Regions from separate parts of the Homo sapiens genome. Here region 1 is linked to region 2. A link means that fine-mapping ties the variant in region 2 to the expression of a gene that starts in the linked region. Tissue or cell type: whole blood. Region 2 holds a variant in brackets; the other region holds the start of a gene. All regions are shown on one strand. Distances are between the middles of the regions. Region 1 holds the start of RNGTT (RNA guanylyltransferase and 5'-phosphatase). Region 2 overlaps RNGTT (RNA guanylyltransferase and 5'-phosphatase).

What was found.
Region 1: it holds the start of RNGTT, and the variant in region 2 is fine-mapped to the expression of RNGTT in whole blood (TOPMed, PIP 0.97).

What each region holds. Positions count from the first base shown.
Region 1 is chr6:88,956,726-88,968,764 of GRCh38, forward strand. RNGTT (RNA guanylyltransferase and 5'-phosphatase) reads right to left here and starts at 6,893. Exons shown (of 16, transcript NM_003800.5): 1 at 6,621-6,893. The coding sequence starts at 6,684. RefSeq lists enhancers at 5,312-6,238, 6,593-6,972 and a silencer at 6,956-7,190.
Region 2 is chr6:88,917,751-88,929,789 of GRCh38, forward strand. RNGTT (RNA guanylyltransferase and 5'-phosphatase) reads right to left here. Exons shown (of 16, transcript NM_003800.5): 3 at 11,414-11,517; 4 at 11,235-11,323. Among named protein-coding and RNA genes, the nearest start is that of RNGTT, 40 kb to the right of the region's middle. The variant C/T (reference allele first, on the strand shown) is at 5,577.

The DNA of each region.
Region 1 (12,039 bases), 39 kb after region 2:
ATGGTTTACCATACACAAGTCAATAAATGTTGGCCAGGCGTGGTGGCTCTTGCCTGTAATCCCAGCACTTCAGGAGGCCGAGGTGGGTGAATCATTTGAGGTCAGGAGTTCAAGACCAGCCTGGCCAACGTGGTGAAACCCCGCTTCTATTAAAAATACAAAAATTAGCCAGACGTGGTGGCAGGTAGTCCCAGCTACTCAGGAGGCTGAGGCAGGAGAATCACTTGAACCCGGGAGGCAGAGGTTGCAATGAGCTGAGATGGTGCCACCGCACTCCAGACTGGGTGACAGAGCAAGACTCTGTCTCAAAAATAACTAAATAAAATAAAAATAAATGTGATACGTCACATAAACAGAATTAAAAACAAAAATCACATGATCATCTCAATAGATACAGAAAAAGTATTTGACAAAATCCAGTATCCCTTCATGATTAAAACCTTCAGCAAAACTGGCACAGAAGGGACGTACCTCAAGGTAATAGAGCCATACCTCAACATAATAAAAGGCATCTATGACAAACACATGACCAACACTATACTGAATGGGGAAAGGTTGAAAGCATTCCCCCTGGGAACTGGAACAAGACAAGGATGCTACTTTCACCACTTCTATTTAACATAGTACTGGAAGTCCTCACCAGAGCAATCAGGCAAGAGAAAGAAATAAAGGGCATCCAAATTGGTAAAGAGGAAGTCACACTGTCACTGTTCACTGATGATATGATTGTATACATAGGAAACCCTAAAGACTCATCCAAAAAGCTCCCAAATCTGACAAATGAATTCTTTAAAGTTTCAGGATACAAAATCAACGTACACAAATCAGTAGCACTGCTATGCACCAACAATGGCCAAGCTGAGAATCAAATCAAGAACTCAATCCCTTTTACAACAGCTGCATAAAAAAAATAATAACAATAGAATACTTAGGAATATACCTAACCAAGGAGGTGAAAGATCTCTAAAAGGAAAACTACAAAACACTACTGAAATAAATCACAGATGACACAAACAAATGGAAACACATCCCATGCTCATAGATGGGTATAATCAATACTATGAAAATGATCATACTGCCAAAAGCAATCTTTAGATTCAATGCAATTCCCATCAAAGTACCATCATCATTCTTCACAGAACCAGAAAAAGCAATCCTAAAATTCATTGAACCAAAAAAGAGCCCAAATAGCCAAGGTAAGCAAACAAAAAAGAACAAATGTAAAGGCATCACATTACCCAACTTCAAATTATACTACAAGACTATAGTAACCAAAACAGCATAGTACTGGTATAAAAATAGGCACACAGACCCATGGAACAGAATAGAGAACCCAGAAAGAAAGCCAAACACTTACAGCCAACTGATCTTTGACAAAGCAAACAAAAGCATAAAGTGGGGAAAGGACACCCTATTCAACAAATGGTCCTGGGATAACTAACAAGCTACGCGTAGAAGAATGAAACTCATCTCTCACCTTATACAAAGTCAACTGGAGATGGATCAACTCAAACTTAAGTAAGATCTGAAACCATAAAAATTCTAGAAGATAACATTGGAAAAAACTCTTCTAGACATTGACTTAGGCAGAGTTCGTGACCAAGAACCCAAAAGCAAATGCAACAAAAACAAAAATAAATAGATGGAACCTAATTAAACTAAAAAGCTTCTGCACAGCAAAAGAAATAATCAGCAGAGTAAACAGACAACCCACAGAGTGGGAGAAAATCTTCGCAAACTATGCATCTGACAAAGAACTAATATCCAGAATCTACAAGGAACTGAAACAAATGAGCAAGAAAAAAACAAATAATCCCATCAAAAAGTGGACAAAGGACATGAACAGACAAAAGAAGATATACAGTTGGCCAAGAAGCATATGAAAAATGTTCAACATCACTATCAAGGAAATGCAAATTAAAACTACAATGAGATACCACCTTACTCCTGCAAGAATGGCCATAATTAAAATATCAAAAAATATTAGATGTTGGCATGAATGTGGGGAAAAGGTAACACTTTTACACTGCTGGTGGGAATGTAAATTATTACAACCACTAGGGAAAACAGTATGGTGATTCCTTGAAGAACTAGAAGAACTACCATTTGATCCAGCAATCCCACTACTGGGTATCTACCCAGAAGAAAATAAGTCATTATCTGAAAAAGCCACTTGCACAGGCATGTTTACAGCAGCACAATTTGCAATTGCAAAAATGTGGAACCAGCTTAAATGCCCAAGAACCAATGAGTGGATAAAGAAAATGTGATATGTATATATACCATGGAATACTACTCAGCCATAAAAAGGAATGAAATAATGGCATTCATGGCAACCTAGATGGAGTTGGACCCCATCATTCTAAGTGAAGTAACTCAGGAATGGAAACCCAAATATCCTGTGTTCTCACTTGTAAGTGGGAGCTAAGCTATGAGAATGCAAAGACATAACAATGATATAATGGACTTTGGGTACTCAGGGGGAAGTGTGGAGAGGGGGGATGAGGGATAAAAGACTACTACAGTGTACACTCCTTGAGTGACAGGTGCACCAAAATCTCAGAAATCATCACTGAAGTACTTATCCATGTAACCAAAAACCACCTGTCCCCCAAAAACTACTGAAATAACATAAAAATGTTTTTTAAAAAGATCTTTACTAAAGATCTCTATTTGAGCAATCAGGATCTTAATATCTCCTCCAACCTGCTTCTCTCTCAGTAAGCCCTAATAATATCAACTATCTCATGTGCATAAGCCAGACATTTGAGACTAAATTTTGACCCTCTTTCCCTCATTCTAAATACGACATCAAGTTCTGTCCATTTTCCCTTCTTAATATCTCTCAAATTAGCCTTCTACTCTTCATCTGTCACTTTTAAACTATCACTATTGTCTTTCACCTGGACTACAACAAGTTCCTAATTAGTCTCTCCATTTCCACTCTTTTCTCCATCAATTCATTAAACACAGAAAAGTCAAAGTAAGCTTTTAACTTGGATTCAAATAATCTCATCTCGATGCTGAAAAAAAAAACTGCAATTGTATGCCACTGAAAATTTAAAGCATATAAATATTAGGATACCTTATCACACCCTACTTGCCTGTATGATCAGGCTATTCTCCAACCTCTTAACCTCACTTACATCTTCCAGAACAAAGACACTTTTTCAGTCTATTATCTCTCCCATCATCATCCTATCCTAACAGAAACTTTCAATAACACCCCCTGCCAACTATTTATCTAGAAAACTTCTATTTACTGAAGATAATTCATGTATGACCTTCTCTGGGAAGTCTCACCTGATCTCCTTCTTCCTTCCCATCTCTTCTTCCTCAACCTCAAAGAATTAGGTTTATTACCTCTGATTCCCATCATATACCACAATAGAGTCATTGCTACATTTTTTACAACAGAACTGTGCTTAAAATGGATGGTTTGCTACTCCCATGAGACTCTGCTTTTTAAGGGTAATATATCTTAGCCATCTCCCTAGCACCCAGGACTAGCACAAAGTAGACATTTAAATATTTGCTAAATAAAATGACTTCAAAATCACCATCACTATCACCATCACACTATCCTGAGTACCTGGGACCACAAGTATGTGCCAATGCACCTGGCTGTGTCTCATATTTACATTCCCACAGTTCCTAGTAAGCTCTTTACATAGCAGATATGAAATAATTTTATGTTGAATGATATATCTTTAAGAAACTAGGGAGGGCTGGGTGCGGTAGCTCACACCTGTAATGCCAACACTTTGGGAGGCCAAGGCAGGCGGATCACCCGAGGTCAGCAGTTGGAGACCAGCCTGGCCAACATGGTGAAACCCCATCTCTACTAAAAATACAAAAAAGAAAAGAAAAGAAAAGAAAAAAAGGAAAAAGGAAAAGAAATTATAAGTTTGTTTTCTTCCAAGTATTCACCTGAAATCTATTAACTCAGAAGGAGGAAAAAACAGTTCTTCAGAAAATAAAGCTTGGCCCTGTCTCCAAGAGCTCTCTCTCATTGCAAGTCTGGTTTCATCAGAGAAAGTGACTTCACAGAGAAACAAATTATATGTAGTTAGTACCATTTTCTTTCTGATTCAGGAAAATTATGAACTTCTAGTACTAGTAAAGTGAATCCTAACATTTACAACATATAAGTTTGAGCAGCCATAACATTTTCCTCAATATGCAAAATATCAAAGAAATTACTGTGATGGTTAATACTGAGTGTCAACTCGATTGGATTGAAGGATGCAAAATATTGATCCTGGGTGTAGAGGGTGTTGCAAAGGAGATTAACATTTGAATCAGTGGGCTGGGAAAAGCAAACCCACCCTTAATCTGGGTGGGCACCATCTAATCAGCTGCCAGCATGGCTAGAATATAAAGCAGGCAGAAAAATGTGAAAAGACTTGACCGGCTTAGCCTCCCAGCCTACATCTTTGTCCTGTGGTGGACGCTTCCTGCCCTCAAACACTGGATTCCAAGTTCTTCCATTTTGGGACTCAGACTGACTCTCCTTGCTCCTCAGTTTGCTGACAACCTATTGTGGGACCTTGTGATCGTGTGAGTTAACAGTTAATAAACTCCCCTTTACGTCTGTATGTGTGTGTGTGTATGTATGTGTGTGTGTGTATATATATATATGTACATATATTTCCTATTAGTTCTGTCCCTCTAGAGAACCCTTACTAATAAATTACACGATAAGTACAAATTACTTTTTTTTTTTTTTGAGATGGAGTCTCACTCTGTCACCCATGCTGGAGTGCAGTGGTGCAATCTCAGCTCACTGCAACCTCCGTCTCCTGGGTTCAAGTGATTCCCCTGCCTCGGCCTCCCGAGTAGCTGGGATTACAGGCACATACCACCACGCCATCATAGCTTTTTGGCTATTCATATAACTTATTTTGTGAAGTGTCCAAATTTTTTGCTAGTTTTTAAGTCCTTTGAATTTCTTCTGTATAATACATTGATGGTGGGACTATCAAGTGTTACCACTTTGGAAAAGAGGTTGGCAGTTTCTTAAAATTCTTAAAACATACACCTACCATATGATGCAGCCATTCCTCTCCTAGAGACTTACACAAGAGAAATGAAAGTATATGTCCACACAAAGAATTGTACATGAATGTTCACAGCAGGTTTATTTGTAATAGCTAAAAACTGGAAATAACCCAAATGACCATCAATAGATGAACAGGTAAACAAATTGTGGTATACCCAGAACAATAAACTACTACTCTGCAATAAAAAAGGAATAAACTATTGATACATGCATAATCTGGATGAGTATCAAATTAATTATGCTGAGTGAAAAAAGCCACACACACTTCCTTCCACCCCAAGAAGAGTACTCACTATATGTTTCCATTTATTTAAAAATTTCTAGAAAATGCAAACCAATCTATAATTACAGAAAGCAGATCAGTGGCTGCCAGGCGAAGGAGGGATTTAAAAAGGGGCAAGAGGAAACTTTGAGGGGTTTCATGGTTGTTTCCTAGGAAAGAGATATATTTGTGTATATACAGTCAAAATTTATCAAACTGTACGCTTTAAAGCTTATTGTATTCAAGCTCAATAAAGATGAAAAAAACTACAAGAAAAATAATTAAAAAAAACAAAAACCCGGCCAAGCGGGGTGGCTCTCGCCTATAATCCCAACACTTTGGGAGGCCGAAGTGGGAGCATCGCTTGAGTCCACGAGTTCAAGACCAGCCTGGGCAACACAGTGAAACCCTGTCTCCACAAAAAATAAACAAAAAAATTATGGCCAGGCACAGTGGCTCACGGCTGTAATCCCAGCACTTTGGGAGGCCGAGGCGGGCGGATCACTTGAGGCCAGGCGTTGGAGACCAGCCTGGTCAACACGATGAAACCCTGTCTCTACTAAAAACAAAAATTAGCCGGGTGTGGTGGCACGCGCCTGTAATCCCAGCTACTTGGGAGGCTGAGGCAGTGAGCCGAGATCACGCCACTGCACTCCAGCCTGGACGACAGAGAGAGACTATGTCTCAAATATATACATTATAAATATATATATACTTTAATAAATAAAAAAATTAGCCGGGTGCGGTGGCAGGAGCATGTAGTCCCAGCTACTTGGGAGGCTGAGGTGGGAGGATCCCCAGCCCGAGCAAGAGACCCTGTCTCACAAGAAAATAAAAATAAAAAACTAACAAAAACACCCTCCAGATTCCCAGTCTCAATGTGACCCCATTTCACCGCTGGGAACCGCCCCTTCCCTCCTTAACCCTCCTCCATCTCAATACTGATATTCATCCCTTCTTTCGAGGGGAAGGTTGAACCCTAACAGGTTCGCAAACTACTAAGACTCAAAGTACGCCCACTGTATTCCTGGATCCTCACCTCCTGCCACCAACCTCCTGTCTACCTTCACATTCGCACAGTTAGCCTTGCAGGAATAGTAACAAGTGCCCCCCATCCGCCGACCATCCCCTCCCGTTCATGTTCCCATTCATCCACGAAGCGTAATCCGACGGAGCATATCCCGCTCCTGAAATACCACTAATGGGCACAGAACCACCAAAAGCTGAGCTCCTCAGTCGGCCCACCCCCGGGCACGTTGGAGTGTGGGGATTCGAACGCCCCCCAGTCCAGGTTACCTGCCACCGGCTGGCCGCGCCGGGGACAGTTCAGCCACCGCGGCGGGATCTTGTTGTGAGCCATGTCTTGGGGCTGCGCAGAGCTGCCCTCCCTCACCAACGTTCACCGCGCCTTTGGAGCCGCCTCCCCGTGGTCCGGTGCACACCGGGGTCCGAGACACCCGAATCGCAGCCGTAATCTGAATTCCAACCTCTCCGATCCGGGTAACGTCAGGGGCGGCGCGCCACTTTCATTCAGGATCAACTCCACAGCTCCAGGAGAACCCACAATGCACCGCAACTTCCGCCCCCGAAAGCCCCGCCCCCTTTCCGAGGTCAGAGGGAAAGAAGAGGAAGCTCAGCGGAAGGATAGCAAAGAGTTAAGGACGCGACGAATGGGAGGAGCGGGCCTTCTCTCGCCCCACTCGGCACCGCCCCGCCCCGCCCCGTCCCGCTCCACGGACGCGCCCGGACGCTACTGGTTCGCCTTTGCGCATGTGCAATTGCCCTCGTACCGAACTCCGCAGGACGAAGCGTGTATTTTTTTCCCATCCAGACAACCTAGAGAAACCCAAAAAAGAGGGAAGCCAAGCGCCTTTCCATGCGTAGATTGCCCGCCACTTCCGTTAAGGCATCTATTTTACTGATGAAAAGAGGCCTTCTGAGCGTTACCACAGCTCAAGCTTGGCGTCCCAGCCGGATCTAGGTTTGATTTGCAATTAGGGAAAGTTGTTCAAGGGAACAAGTCTTAGGAGAATTCTAAGGACATGAGATTGGAGTACCAGAAATGGGGAATTTTTCTTTTGGTGAGTACTTACGAGGATCTATGAAGCTTCTGAAATTAATTCCAGAACACTTAGAGTTTTGTTTGTACATTTCTGGATCAAAGTTTCAAAGCATACTGGGGAGTTTGAGAGGGTCCATGTCTCCAAAAAAAGTTACTAATTAATGTGGTATAATTGACAAAGGTAGGAATTGATCAGTGGAGAACCTCTTCGTGGCGTTGTTCTCCTTGGCCTACCAAATAAACAGTGCCTTTTATTTTCCCTTCGAGTTAAGCAGAGGTGCTTGAAAAATTTTTATAAATGCCGTCCTTTAACGAGCCTTTCCTTTGTTACCAGATTAAAGTGTTAAATATAAAGCTGGATGATGGCGAATCAATTATAATGTAGTTTGGCTTTAAACACCAATGCTATATTGGAACTGCAAGAACGTAAGGCTGCAGGGAATACATTTTTAAAGCGTCGGTGGGGAACTTTCTGGGACGCTCAACCCCCTGAATGCCTGGACCCCCTCAGTAAGAGTCCCATCAATAGAGGCAGTCCAACAGCAATCTCTCTGAGGCAGCCTGAGTTAGGTCACACTTCTGGTCTGTCCTGCTGTTGCATCTGCTCAGAACTGTTAGTGAAGGTGTAAACTCCTCCCCTGACAGAACAAGATAATACCCAGTTTCCTTTAAGGCCATCAGTCTACCCAAATAATCTCCGATGAATTCCCTTTTCTGCTGATAGAGTGTGTACCATGCCCAAAGTGGTAAAAACCTTCCATCCCCAGACCCCCTCCAAGGATGGGAAAGGTGAGCCTGATCCTGGAAGAGTATCTTACCTTCCCCTTCTGGGGATGACTCCCCTTGGTGACTCCCCTTCCCACACACGCTATACCCAGTAGCTCAGTCCTAGGCACACAGAAGCTTCATACCACTGGCGAGCAACTGTTATTGGCTGTAAGGCAGCAATGTGCACTGGATTTTTATTCTGCTATCCAGTTATGCCCTCTCCATACTCATTGCCACAGAATTGGGAGGACCCTGTGGCTACCTTTTGTCCACAATAGAGAGTAGAGTAGGAGAGTGGCATCCCGATGAGCAGGCAGTTTCTCTCTGCCTGTCAGGAATGCCTTGCCTGATGTGTGTTTCTGCCTATATTGCTCCTAGTCCCAAGTTTCTACTACTCTGTGAGAAGAAAAATAGATGCTCACAGACAGACCAACATGATTCCTCCCCCGCTTCCTGGAACCCCTGACACCCTCCCAGATATGTCTTGATCTCCTCTTTATCAGATGTAGATTCTCTTCATTGGTGAGTCTTTCATCAAACATCCATTTTGCCCATAAGGAAGAGTGTGTACATGTAAAAAATAAGATTGAACGTTCTCTTTTGGCAAAAGAGAGAGATCTTATCTGTCTTCCCTTTTCCTAGGACTTTTCCTTGAGAAAAACCTATATTTATTAATCCTTCCTCTTCACTTTGATATGTAGATAAATCTTTTGTTTTTGCAGACAGGGTCTCACTTTCTCACCCAGGCTAGAGTGCAGTGGGCATGATCAGGGCAGCCTTACTGGAGCCTCAACCTCCCAAGCTCAAGCAATCCTCTCACCTCAGCCCCCAAGGAGCTGGGACTACAGGTGCAGGCCCCCACACCCCACTAACTTTTTTATACTTTTTTCGTCTGGAACTCCTGCAAGCAGCCCTCCCACCTCAGCCTCCCAAAGTGCTGGTAAGACAGCCAGGTGGGAAGGATTCCTTGGCAGAATCTCCTTTTGACCTGAGCACTGGGAGGAATGCACCCTGTGGTGGAGCCTTGGGAAATTTGCGCCATTTGCAGTGGGGAGGAGCCTGGCCCCTCCTTTTCCTAGGTGGAACCTGGGATTCAGTCTACCAGGCAGGAAGCACTCTGGCTTTGGGGAGAGTCTCTGTTTCCCTTTTTTTCTTTTTGCCCAATAAATTCCATTCTCACCCTTCAAGGCATCTGTGAGCCTAATATTTCATGGCCATGTGACCAGGACCCAGCTCTTAGCTGAACTAAGGAGAAAGTCGTACAACAGCTTTGGCACCCAATGTGGGGCTTGAGAAGCGGTTGAGTGACACGGGGACTCAAAACTTTTCACTGTCATTTCTAAGCCTTTTCATGCGTGGACTTCTGAGGGTAGGGAAACCATGCCCCCACTCCCATCGCTCCCTGGGGTCAGGGGCCTTTCCATGGCCTTTGCCTTCGTTTTTTGGGAAGGATAGGCAAGTCGCAGCTCCTCATTCCCTCTCCCCTCCCAGCTGGGGCTGGGGAATGCCACATGTCCACAGCATCTTCCCCTTCCCTGGCCAAGGCTCAACTCCATCTGATAAGCTTCTCTCCCTGGTAGAGGAACCATTTGCCTAAGAATAAAAGGTTTATTCCCCCAGGCATCCTTTTTTCTTCACCCCATCAACAGTTAACTTTTAAACCAGATGTTTTTTTTCTTTTTCACTAGGCTAGGAATGATAAGGATCCCTGTTTATATTCTCCTTAAAGTTTGGTTGTGAAAAAGGATCTTATGGGGACTGGTTTTCTTCTGCCTGTCTGTGTAGCTATATATATGTTGTGTACATGATGTCTATGAAAAGAGCTCAAAGGCCAGGCACGGTGGCTCACACCTGTAATCCCAGCACATTGGGAGGCTGAGTCAGGCAGATCACCTGAGGTCGAGAGTTCAAGACCAGCCTGACCAACTTGGAGAAACCCCATCTCTACTAAAAATACAGAATTAGCCAGGCATGGTGGCACATGCCTGTAATCCCAGCTACTTGGGAGGCTGAGGCAGGAGAATCACTTAAACCTGGGAGGTGGAGATTGCACTCCAGCGTGGGCAGCAGGAGCAAAACTCCATCTCAAAAAAAAAAAAAAAAAAGGAGCTCTAAGGCCAGGTGTGGTGGCTCATGCCTGTAATCCCAGCACTTTGGGAGGCCAAGGCAGGCAGATCATTTGAGAGTCAAGAGATTGAGACCAGCTTGGCCAACATGGTGAAACCCTGTCTCTACTAAAAATACAAAAATTAGCCAGGTGTGGTGACGTGCCTGTAGTCCCAGCTATTTGGGAGGCTGAGGCAGGAGAATCCCTTGAACCCAGGAGGCAGAGGTTGCATTGAGCTGAGATTGTACCACTGCACTCCAGCCTGGCCAACAGAACAAGACTCTGTCTCAAAAAAAAAAAAAAAAAAAAAAAAAAACTCTAATTGGCCTAAAGGAAGACAAGTGCTTAGATCATATATTTTTTAAAGGGAAGGTAAAAGATGTGGTACCTTTCAGTTCATGTGACTTTAATCTTTGAGAAATAAAAACAGCCTTAAAGATTATTGGTAAAAAACAGATGTCATCAAAATGTAAATAGGTGGACTAAATTATGCAGGTTAGGTACTAGTCTTGCTAAATGTTTTAATGTTATAAACTGCTTTTTGAGTTTTGAGAACTATCTGACTTGCTGGCTTCACAATTGATAAGGCCTGGGGACATATGGAACTAACCATGTCATTAATTATGCTAGAAGGAGTCAAAACTTCGCTGCACCTGGCACACAATTAAAACAACTTACCAGGTTTTACATTAAAGTTAAAATTGCTAGGAGTTACCATTATAATGTATAATTGAAACTACTGAAAATAGATTTACATGCAAGGTGTGTAAGAACAGTAAAATGTGTTTTTTAGTAAAAGGTAATGGAAGGCATGGAAATGTAAATTTTTGCCTAGGGTTAGGGAATTGTTTTAAATTAGGTAAGATAAAGCTAAAGGTTTAAACAAGTTCTGGAAGGTTAAAATTAATCTTGCAAAAGAAATGCTGTGTGTGAACATTGGCTAAATTCAAAAGTAAATTGAGCATTGAAATAAAAGCACAACAAAGTTTTCTTAAGGCACTAATCTGCACTTTAGCAAAATTTGTAAAGGGTTATAAAAAGTTTTTGCTTCTTTAAAATTTCTGAGTAATTTTGGCAAAATAAATAATTTATGGAAATCTGGAATTCTATTTCATAACATCAAGTGTTTTAAACCACTAACATATTTAACAGGCTTCCCAAAAATCAAACTTCAGTTTCAAAATTGTCTTTCCTGACACCTGGCTTTTCAGAGGCTCCAGAAGGACCCTAGAGTGTCCAGAAGAGAAATGTAAACAGGATTAGTTGACATGTTTAGGTATGTGGGATTGCCAAAATAATGTTCAGTTTTCTTTTTTTCTTTTCTTTTTTTTTTTTTTTTTTTTTTGAGACAGAGTCTCACTCTGTAACCAGGCTGGAGTGCAGTGACACGATCTCAGCTTACTGCAACCTCCGCCTCCTAGGTTCAAGTGATTTTCCTGCCTCAGCCTCCCAAGTAGCTGAGATTATAGGCACCCACCACCATGCCCAGCTAATTTTTTTGTATTTTAGTAGAGACAGAGTTTTGCCATTTTGGCCAGGCTGGTCTTGAACTCCTGACCTCAGGCGATCTACCCTCCTCAGCCTCCCAAAGTGCTGGGATTACAGGCATGAGCCACTGCACCCGGCCCAGTTTTCTTTAGGTTATATTATTGTGAATAATACTAATATATGTTCCAAAATTGTATGGGATTTCTAAAATTCTAATGTCTGAGATAACCAAACTTCTTTGTCAATTGTGTTTCTAACTGTAACTACCCTGGACATTTTGTTATTCACAG
Region 2 (12,039 bases):
GTGGCGGTTGCCTGTAATCCCAGCTACTCGGGAGGCTGCGGCAGGAGAATCGCGTGAGCCCAGGAGGCAGAGATTGCAGTGAGCTGAGATCATGCCACTGCACTCTAGCCTGGGCGACAGAGCGAGACACCATCTCAAAAAAAAGACTGAGAATGAACCATGATGGGCTTCAAAGAACAAAAACACAGGGTCATGTATGCCAAGTAAAGGAAATTTTCTAAGTTATGAGTGCTTAGATGTCACATAATGATTAGAATGGAAAATCACTATTTGATTAAGAGTGCTAGCCAGGTGCAGTGGCTCATGCCTGTAATCCCTGCACTTTAGGAGGCCGAGGCGGGAATATCACTTGAGGCCAGGAGTTCAAGACCAGCCTGGACAACACAGTATGACCCTGTCTCTACAAAAAATAAAATTTAAAAAATAGCCAGGCATGGTGGCAAGTGCCTGTAGTACCAGCTACTCGGGAGGTTGAGGTGGGAAGATTGCTCGAGACCAGGAGGTCGAGGATGCAGTGAGCTATGATTGCACCACTGCACTCCAGCCTGGATGACTGAGTGAGACACAGTCTTAAAAAGCAAACAAACAAAAAACAGTGCTGAGGGAGGACTCCAGACTGCAACAAAGTGGATAGGAAAAAATGGATTCAAGTATAGATTCTTTTAAAAAGTCAGCTGAGAAAGGGAAGAGGGAATGCAAAACAGAAAGAAGGGTACGGGGTTTTTTTCAGCGGGAGGGGATTATTTAACAAGTTTAGGTATGTTTACAGGCTCAGGACAAGAACCTAGTTAAACCACAAAGCTTGACAATAATAGAAACGATATAAGTGAAATTAAGTTTCTGAAAGAAGAAAATAAAAAACAAAGAGATCAGCCTTGAACTGAAGACATCACTTAGAAATAAATAGCTATGACCAAGAAAATCTATAAATTCCATTATCTCCATTGCTTTGTAAGAAAAAGTGCTTCAAAAAAGCCACACAAAGATGTGCACTATAAACACATTTTTGTATTCATGTATCTTAACCCAACATGTAAATTTCCTTACTATCTTCTATTTCAGACCAATTCAAGCAACAAATATTTCAACTTTCGATGTTTCTCACCTAAGCTACTGTTTTTGTATCCAATTTTTACTCTTGCAAGATTAAATATTTTTATGAATAGGAAATGTAATAATAATTGCCAATTAGCTAATATGTCATGTGAAGATATGTAATCTAGGAAAGTACCATTTTCCTTTTAATATTCTTTATATGCAAATACAAAAAGTCTTAGTCTAATGGTTCAGTTATACATCAAAACATTTATAGATAGGGTTATAAAGTTACAAAACCATCAAAACAAACCACTATAGAAAAATGTGGGAGATTATGTATTTGATATTAAAAAATCCATTAATTAGGTATACTACAAGCTTAGATACGTCTTCAGTTTTTGTTTAAAGCAATTTTCAGTTTTCTTCATCATGAGAATGGGTCCATCTAGTGGTAAGTAAGCCACAGTTTTTAACTAAATATTAGCTCACAATTAACTATTTCAAGGCAACTTCTATTCAAATTTTTCCAGGCAAGCTAATATAATGAAATAAATGTATATGGCATTTACAATCAAACTAGGGAAAGAAACTCCCCAACAAATAGACAGAGAGATTAGCTATAGCTATACATGTTGGGGCAGTTTATAAAGGGGCTGGTGACAATGTATCTTTTTAAATAAAGCCTGATCTCAACATACACTATTTTGGAGGGTGTGGGGGGTATAGACAGGGTCTCTCTATGTTGCCAAGGCTGGTCTTGAACTCCTGGGCTCAAGAGATCCTTGGCCTTGGTCTTCTGGGATTGTAGGCATGAGCCACCACACCTGGCCCACAATTTTATTTCTATCTCACTAGCTAGATAAATTTTTTAATGCTAAAAATCCTAATTATTTGATCAGTCTAATTAGGTCAGTAGTTCTTTTTTTTTTTTTTTTTTTTTTTTTTGAGACGGAGTTTTGTTCTTTTTGCCCAGGCTGGAGTGCAATGGAGCAATCTCGGCTCACTACAACCTCTACCTCAGCCTCCTGAGTACCTGGGATTACAGGCATGCGCCACCACGCCTGGCTAATTTTGTATTTTTAGTAGAGACAGGGTTTCACCATGGTGGTCAGGCTGGTCTCAAACTCTGACCTCAGGTGATCCACCCGCCTCGGCCTCCCAAAGTGTTGGGATTACAGGCGTGAGCCACTGCACCGAGGATTCAGTAGTTCTCAACTGGGGAAGATTTTGCCCCCCAGGGGACATTTTGTAATGTCTAGAGACAATTTTAATTGTTACAATTTGTGGGATGAAGTTGAAGTCCAGCCTGAACAACATAGCCAGACCTGGTCTCTAAAAAATTATTTAATATAATACAATAAAGGCAAAAAAAATTAATGCAGTTGTTCCTCAGACTCCTCAGGGGATTGGTTCTGGGATCCCCCTCAGATACCAAAATCCTCCGATGCTCAGTGCTCAAGTGCCTTGTATAAAATGGCATAGTATTTGCATATGACCTATGAACATCCTGCCGTTTTCTTTGAATCACCTCTAGGTATTACTTATAATACCTAATGCAATGTAAGTGCTATGTGAACAGTTACTATACTGTATTTGTTGTTTTGAAAAAAGCAGGTTATTTATATGGTACAGTATGCAGCTATTATTTAACAGAACAATATTATGAGATATACATGAAATATGTTAAGGATGTGTGTATATATATTCATACATTTATATGAATATATATAACAGTCACACATACATACACATATATTGAGGTATATGACTAGAACCTACACAGCTTAAGGTAATACTGAGGCCTTTATCTGAATAAGTAAAAACAACTCACAGAAGTGTTTTCTCATTTGAGAGAAGCCATTATAGGGGTAAACATTAAATATGCTTAATGAATTCAAAGGAGGGCAGTCAAGCAATTTTAACCTCTGGCATTAGATGTCATGATTTTAGAAAGATTCATACTCCAGGTTTAGGAAAACAAATTCATCCTTGTTATAAATTGTGCAGTTGTATTCTTAGAAGAACTGATAAGAAAAACTTCTAATTGTTTTGAGTGTTTACAGGTTATAAAATTTATAGAACCTAGTGATATATATATATTTTGTTTTATATTCCCGGCAGTGATTCTGTTCATGTGGATTGAATTGGAAACATTTGCTTTGGGCCTGCCAAATTTTGGAGCACAGGATGTATTGCCAGTTATTTCTTATAGTATTACTGTAGAGACAATAACAGAAACTAGTCTCAGAACTGATTGCTGATAACACCTTTCTAAATAAAAAGCACTAAAGAATCAAGCTTAAGTAGTCTTAGGATCTGAAAATACTGTCCTGCTTTTATAGTACTTTCATTTATTTTTAGTTTCAGAGAAGGAATTTTTATCAGCCTTGCACAAACTCTTGCTGATCAATATTTGTGACCAGTAGTAAACATTTGTGATGTGGCAAAGGTTAGACTCAGGTTTCTTTTCAAAGCTGTCTTGGTTTTAAAAAAAAATCCCAGCCTGGGTGACATAGTGAGACCTGGTCTTTAAAAAAAAAAAAAGTAATCTTTGAATTAGCTGATATAATTGTTAATTTATCAATTACAGTTGACAACTGATTCAGTTATCAGTTGATAATTGGTGAGGCTGTGGGCTAATGCTGTAGGCTTCATGGAAATATAAAGTTCTTGAAACACACAGAAGCTTGAAACCTTTTCTAATCCTTAGCAGTAACTACAGCTTCATAGTCCCTTATCTGAAACCCTTAGAACCAGATGTTTTCAATTTTTACCATACTGTTAGCTTCTCTGGGGCAGTACTCTCAAATTTTTTTTTTATTATGGAAATTTGCAGACATACCCAAAGCAGTGAGAATAGAAAAATGAAACCTCATGTATCCATCATCCCTCTTTGGTAATTATCATTTTGCTGATTTTTTTTCATCCTCCACCCTTAATAATATTTTTGGAGTAAATTGGCCTTCCTATATCTGTATTAAAAATATTTGGGAAAAAACTCAATAAAAAATACAGTAAAAAATAATACAAATTTAAAAATACAATATAGTAACTGTTCACATAGAACTTACATTGTATTAGGTATTATAAGTAATACCTAGAGGTGATTCAAAGAAAACGGCAGGATGTTCATAGGTCATATGCAAATACTATGCCATTTTATACAAGGCACTTGAGCACTGAGCATCAGAGGATTTTGGTATCTGAGGGGGATCCTAGAACCAATCCCCTGAGGAGTCTGAGGAACAACCACATTAATTTTTTTTTTGCCTTTATTATTATTATATTAAATAATTTTTTAGAGACCAGGTCTGGCTATGTTGTCCAGGCTGGACTTCAACTCCCAGGCTCAAGCAGTCTTTCCACCTTAGCTCCCAAGTAGCTGGGACTACAGGCATGTGCCACTGGGCCCAGCTCTTACTATTATTTTTAATTTATACATAATAACTGTATTATAAATATATAAATACATATTTATGGGGTAGAGTGTGATATTTCAATACATGTCTACAATGTATAAAGATCAAATCAGAGTAATTAGCATTTTAATGACCTTAAACTACATTTTAGAGCAAGTCACAGACATGTCATGTCACTAAAAATGTTTCAATACACATCTCTAATAAGGACTCTGGGTTTCATATGATTACCATGCAATAATTATACCAAAAGAAGAGTTATAAATTCCTTAACGTCATCTAGAACCTAGTTTGTTTTTAGATTTCCTCAATTACCTTAAAAAAAAATTTTTTTTTTTGAGATGGAGTCTCGCTCTGTCACCCAGGCTGGAGTGCAGTGGCGCAATCTCGGCTCACTGCAAGCTCCACCTCCCGGGTTCATGCTATTCTCCTGCCTCAGCCTCCCAAGTAGCTGGGACTACAGGCGTCCGCCACCACGCCCAGCTAATTTTTTGTATTTTTTTATTAGAAACAGGGTTTCACCATGTTAGTCAGGATGGTCTTGATCTCCTGACCTTGTGATCCACCCGCCTCGGCCTCCCAAAGTACTGGGATAAAGTTAATGTTTCAAACCAGGATCCAACAATACCTACAAACTGCATTTTTTGTTAGGTATCTCAAGTGTCCCTGATTCGCTCTTTTAAATGCAATCAATATGATGGAAAAGCCTAGCCACTGTTCTATGAAATGTTCCACATTCTGGATTTATCTGATTGCATCCTCATGGTTTCAATTAGCTTGTTCTCTTATCTCCCATATGTCTTGTAAATTGATAGTTAAATCCAGAGACATAATTAGATTCACTTTTAAGACTTTAGGTAAGAATATTTTATAGATGGTACTGTGTATTTTCTTTCATACCACATCAGCAAGCACATAATGTTTGGCTGTCCCACTTTTAGTGGTACTAACATAAGTGGGTTCAAGTGGTGGCTGCTCATTTCTTCTGTTATAAAGTTTTCCATTTTGTATTTTACTTAATGATTTTACTGACCATTGATGATTGTTGTTTCCAGGTTGTTTTTTTGTTACCAAGGGAAGCTGTGGTGAAATTCCTTTCACATAACTCTTTATGTCCAT[C/T]TCTGACTACTTCCTTAAAATAAGTTCGTAGTCTTGATGAGTCAAGAGAAACACTTTTAAGGATCTTGAGAAATACCACCATGTTCTCTCTCCACATAGCCCTCTGTAGAGACTATACCAATTAACACTCAAAAGTGTATGAATGCACCCATTTTATCCAATCCTTGACACTAACAGACATTATAATTTTTTTTTCCAAGAAGGAAAAGTTTATTGAGTCAGCCACAGAGGAGCAGAGAAACAGACGCAGGGAGGTTCTCTGTGCAGCAGGGTATGCAACAAACATTTACCTGATGAAGAGAACAAAACCCAAAGGCTCTGTGTAGAAACAGACACAAACACAAGGCCACTTTTACCCACCTAATGTTAGGTGCAACATTACTCTTCCTTACGATCCCTTTTCCTCATAAAACATAGCATTATGTGTTCAACAAACATATCGTAGCTAAATCAGCAAGAGCTATTATAGTGCTCCAACTTAATAAGTTGATTTAAAAAAAAACAGGTGTTCTATGGCCAGTTCACAATTAAAATAGTTTTGTTCCAAGATTCCTTTCTCTGGCAACAAGGCATTTCCAACAAACAGGTCATTCTGTCACCAGGAGCTGGTTTCAGTCCATGGCACAGAGCAACGTGCCCCTGGCAGCCCCAGGGAGAGGAAGGGGAAGCCACCGGGAGGGGTACTCAAGTTATCCTGGAGGCCCTGAGGAGGGGTGGCCAAGGGCCACCTCAATGCTGGGGGGCTCCATCCAGGATAGTGCTGGCTGGCTTCGCATGAGGAGGTGACAAGAACTTTAGGCTGGTCCCCCAACATGCCATGTGCAAGGGCCTTGTTCAACCCAGAACTGAACTGACACCCCTCCCAGGTAATGCAGGGCAAAGTCCCCTAGGAGCTCTCAGAAATATAATTTTTTTAATCTTTGCCAATTTGATGTGGAGTGCAGCTACCAGCATGTACTTTAATTTGTATCTCATTAGCAAGTGAGAAAAATTTTTTTCATGTTTCTTGGCTTCTTGTATTTCATATTCTGTAAATTGCTCTTTCATTGTTTTCCATAATTTTCTATTAAGGAATGCCTCTTTCACTTACTGGTGTATAAGATATCTTCATAAATAAGATTATTAACTTTTTATGTCACATATGCTTCAGATATTTTTCCAAATTTGTCAAAATCTTTTTTTGAGACAGAATTCTTGCTATGTTGCCCAGACCAGTGTCAAACTCCTGGGCTCAAGCAATCCTTCTGCCTCAGCCTCTCAAGTAGCTGGGATTACAGGCATGTGCCACCAAGCCAGACCCCAATTTGTCCAACATCTTTTTGCCTCCCTTCTGTTGTGTCTTTTGTTGTTGTTGTTTTATGTTTTATTTTTTTCTTTGCCCTCAAACATTCTCCTCTCCAATTTTTTTTTTTTTTTAGAGACAGATTCTCACTCTATTGCCCAAGCTGGAGTGCAGGTGTGATCATACCTCACTATAGCCTCAAACTCCTGGGCTCAAGCAGTCCTCCCACTTCAGCCTCTTAAGTAGCTGGGACTACAGGAGTACACTGCTGCACTTGGCTAATTTTTTTATTTACAGAGACAGGGTCTCACTTTGTTACTCAGGATGGTCTCAAACCCCTGGCTTCAAGTGATCCTCCCATCTTAGCCTCCCAAAGTGCTGAGATAACAATGGTGAGCCACTATACCCACCTGTTGTGTTTTTTTTTAAGACAAAAATTTTTCTCTTTTATGTGGCCAACTAGAAACTAATTACAGCAACTAATTACAGATTTCAACTTTAAAGCCAGAAACTGGATTAAAAACCTGGCTTATCCTTGTTAGTATAGCAGTGACAAGAAAAAAAAAGAAAAAACCTGGCTCAACTACTTATTAGATGCATGACCATGGGCGAAGTACTTAACTTCTCTGAGACTCACTTTCCTTATCTATAGTTCCCCAAGTCCACTGAACAAATAATAAGCATTTATTAATACTAGCTTATTAATAAATAAGGGTTCACGCCTGTAATCCCAGCACTTTGGGAGGCCAAGGTGGGTAGATCACTTGAACCCAGGAGTTCAAGACCAGCCTAGGCAACATGGTGAAACAGTGTCTCTACAAAAAATACAAAAATTAGCAGGGTGTGGTGGTGCGCACGCCTATGGTCCCAGCTACTCGGGAGGCTGAGGTGGGAGGATCACTTGAGCCCTGCAGACAGAGGTTGCAGTGAGCCGAAGTCACACCACTGCACTCTAGCCTGGGCAATACGGCAAGACCTTACCTCATAAAAAAAAAAAAAAAACAACTAGCTGTTACTATCATCATTAATAGCCACCATACTTTAAATTCTGACAGCAGTTCTCAAATTTAAGTCTGCATAAAAGCCACCTAATACTTTTCTTTTGAAAATCTAGATTCCTGGCAAAAGTGCAGTGGTGCACGTAGTCCCAGCAACTCAGGAGGCCAAGGCAGGAGGATCAATTGAGGACAGGAGTTCGAGGCTGTAGTGTGCTATAATCATGCCTATAAATAGACACTGCACTCCAAGTGGGCAACATAGCAAGACCCTGTCTCTTAAAAAAAAATCTGGATTCCTAACATTCATCCTTAGACATTTTGATTACGTAGGTCCAGGATAGGCCCTAAAACATACATTTCTAACAAGTATCTTCAAGTGGTTCTGATACAGGCAGTCCAGGAGCACTCCTAAAAGAAAAATACTCATTTATGGATTCTGTCTTTGGTGATATACATGGAATATCCTTCTTTGTTTACTCCAGAATTAAATAAATATTTACTATTTTCTCCTATATTCTTTTTGGTCCTTTTAAAAATATTTAATACACCTAAAATTCACTTATTATGTGGTTGACTAATGGAACACCATTTGGTGAAAAATCACACCTTTCCTCTCTAATTTAAAAACATCTCCTTTACCACCAGGAACTAGTGCTATCAGTTCCATTGCTTTACCATATGATTTAATGACTGGAAAGAAAAATCTCCTCATTACTCTTGTTTTTCAAATTTTTCTTGCTCATAACTTGCATGTCTGATTTGCCAAACTATTTTTTTCTGTGCTCGGTAATATTCAGTGACTTAATAGAGGTGGGGATTTTACAAATTAATTTCAAAGTAATTCTGCCTAACTTTCATTGGGATTTTGGTTAGAACAACATTAAAACTTTGAAATTAATGTGGAAACAAGTAACGTCTCTCCATTTCTTCATGTTTATTTTAATATTTAAATATATTTTCTTCATAAAGACCATCTACATTTATTAGTAAAAATTCCTTGGTGTTTTGTACTTCTGTTATAGAAGAGAGAGGTAGTTTCAAGTGTGAACATGCAACTCAGATTGCTTAGGATATAATCCACACTCTAGCCCTTACTGGCTGTGTGAGTGACCCTTCAGCAGTCTTAACTTTTCCAAGTCTCAGTTTAAGGGCATAACAATACTATCTACCTAATATAATTGCTATGAAAAGAAAATGAGACAATGTGTGTGACATGGTTTACACAAAGACTAGCAGGGAGGAAATGTTCAATATGTGATAGCCAATATTGTTAAGATTAATGGGACTATTTTCTGATTATATTTTCTAACTAATTATTGCTTGTTTCCAGGAAAGTTGCTGATGTTTTCTTTTTTATCTTACGTTCTCAATATATCCCCAAATTTTCTTACTACTAGTTTTTCCGTTAATTATCTAAATAAGGAAAAACATTAGCTACTTAAAATCAAACAAGACACAAAAAAATTTGATGAAAAAAAGTTTTAAAATATTACCAAAAAATTAAAATGAGATGAATAGGAAATATTTTCAAACAGTAGATATATGAATTTACATCATCTAGCCCTAAGAAGAGAAAGAACTACTCAATAAACTGTGCTGAAACAAATGGTTGGTTATGTAGAAAACATTTAATTGGGCAGGCATGGTGGTTCACGCCTGTAATCCCAGCACTTTGGGAGGCCGAGGTAGGCAGGCAGATCACCCGAGGCCAGGAGTCCAAGACCAGCCCAGTCAATATGGTGAAACCCCATCTCTACTAAAAATACAAAAATTAAGCCCGGCACGGTGGCTCACACCTGTAATCCCAGCACTTTGGGAGGCTGAGGCGGGCAGATCACCTGAGGTTGGGAGTTCAAGACCATCCTGACCAACATGGAGAAACCCTGTCTCTACTAAAAATACATAATTAGCCGGGCATGGTGGCACATGCCTGTAATCCCAGCTACTCAGGAGGCTGAGGCAGGAGAATTGCTTGAACCCAGGAGGCAGAGGTTGCAGTGAGCTGACAGTGTGCCATTGCACTCCAGCCAGGGGAACAAGAGCAAAACTCCATCTCAAAAAAAAAAAAAATACAAAAATTAGCAGGGTGTGGTAGTGCATGCCTGTAATCCCAGCTACTCAGGGGGCTGAGGTGGGAGAATCGCTTGAACCTGGGAGGCAGAGGTTGCAGTGAGCCGAGATCACTCCACTGCACTCCAGCCTGGGCAACAGAGTGGGATTCCATCTCAAAAAAAAAAAAAAAGAAAGAAAAGGAAACTTTACATTGCATCCTCAATTTAAACCATATACCAACAGAAATAACAGAAAAGCAAAGTTGGCCAGGCACAGTGGCTCATGCCTGTAATCTCAGCATTTTGAGAGGCCGTGGCAAGAGGATCACTTGACACCAGCAGTTCAAACCAAGCCTGGGCAACATAGTGAGACCCTGTCTCTACAAAAAATAAAAATAAAAATAAATAGCTGGGGGTAGTGGTGTGTGCCTGTAATCCCAGCTACTCAGGAAGCTGAGAAGAGAGGATCACTTGAGCCCAGGAGTTCAAGGCTGCAGTGAGCCAAGATCGCAGCACTGCACTCCGGCCCGGGCGATACAGCAAGACTTTGTCTCAAAAAATAATTTTTCATTAAAAAAAAATTAAATTTAAAACCAAACCTTAAAAATTCTAGAAGACCACTCCTAGCAGCATTGTTTATAAAAGCAAAACAACAACAACAACAAACCTGAAAATAACTCAAAAGTCATTTTCAGTAACTGCCATTTTATGAAAATTTACTTATTAAATTTGTTATTGCCTGCCCTCCTTCCCTCAGCCTCCAGCCCACACTAGAATATGAGCTCTGTAAGAGCAGGATGTTTTTTTCTATTTTGTTCACTGATGTGTTCCACGAGCTGGTGCCTGGTATAGATAGAGTAGCAATCAATAAAAATCTGATGAAGGAATTGTGCATCAACAAGAGTATAAACTGTGGTGTATTTGTATAATGGAATACTATATAGAAGCAAAAATGAACTACAATTACATCACCATACATTGCTCTCAGAAATCCTGAATAAAAAAGAATGAAGTTTCAGAATAATATAGTATAAAATGTAAAATTATAAAATGTAGAAGTATAAAAAATAAATATGTAGTGTTTAGGATAGACTTTCCCAACAGGACACCTGAAGAGAGGAAATCAGGGCTTTATCTAGAAAAATGTAAAAATTATGAAAATACATTTATTACATAATTCACAAGTCAATCTCTCATTTTAATAAACACTACTTGGTCATTATTTAAAACAGAAAAAACTTTCATATCAACTTATTTGCAAACAAGAAAACAGAAACCTAACTGCAAAATAAAATATTCAACAGTGGCAAAGTAAAGCCAAACATACCTATAAGTTCAGGTGGATTTCTTTCATTAAACCGCTCACACAGACGAATAAAGGTCTCAGTATTCTCAGTGGTAGGGCACTCACCATGTCTAGTAATATAGAAAAAGTTTTTTTGAAAAAAGAGATTACAAATTGTGATGAAAGGTTTCAATATTAAAGAATCTTAATATATAACTTACCCTTTACACTGAAGTTTTATATATTTGATTCCTTCTTTTTCTATGTCATTTCGGTCATAGAACCTTGAAGTATTTGTCAGGTCCACCAACAAGCCCATTTTAACCTAAAAAAAAAAAAAAATGAAAGGGCAAATTTACTAGTAACTTAATTTGTTCCCAAATAAGTAGACTAAATGGCAATACTACAGTTCATTCATTTACATTGAGGGAGATTCTGTATGTACTTTGCCCCTGAACAATTGATAATAAAAGTATCACTTATCAAAGTCTTATTCAAGACACTAAAACTAAGCAGGCACTTGATAAAATAAATTAACTCCCAAACTAAGGAAAGAACAGGAATATAAGCAAAACAAATTCTACTGCCAACATCACAAAAGTCTATGCAAAAGAGAAAATGCTAGAGTTTTCTCTAGTGTTTGCTGCATATACCTCTGCACCTGTGATTTATTAGACAAGAGGCTAGAGCAGGAATGGCATCTATCTGAAGTATACCACAACTCAAGCTCTCGGCACAAATCACCCACCCCAGCCTTCCAAGCAGCCACCACCAATAATTCTGTTAATATCTATTGACTACACCATTTTATATCCCAGGCTTAAAAGATGAGACAATCCATTTATAT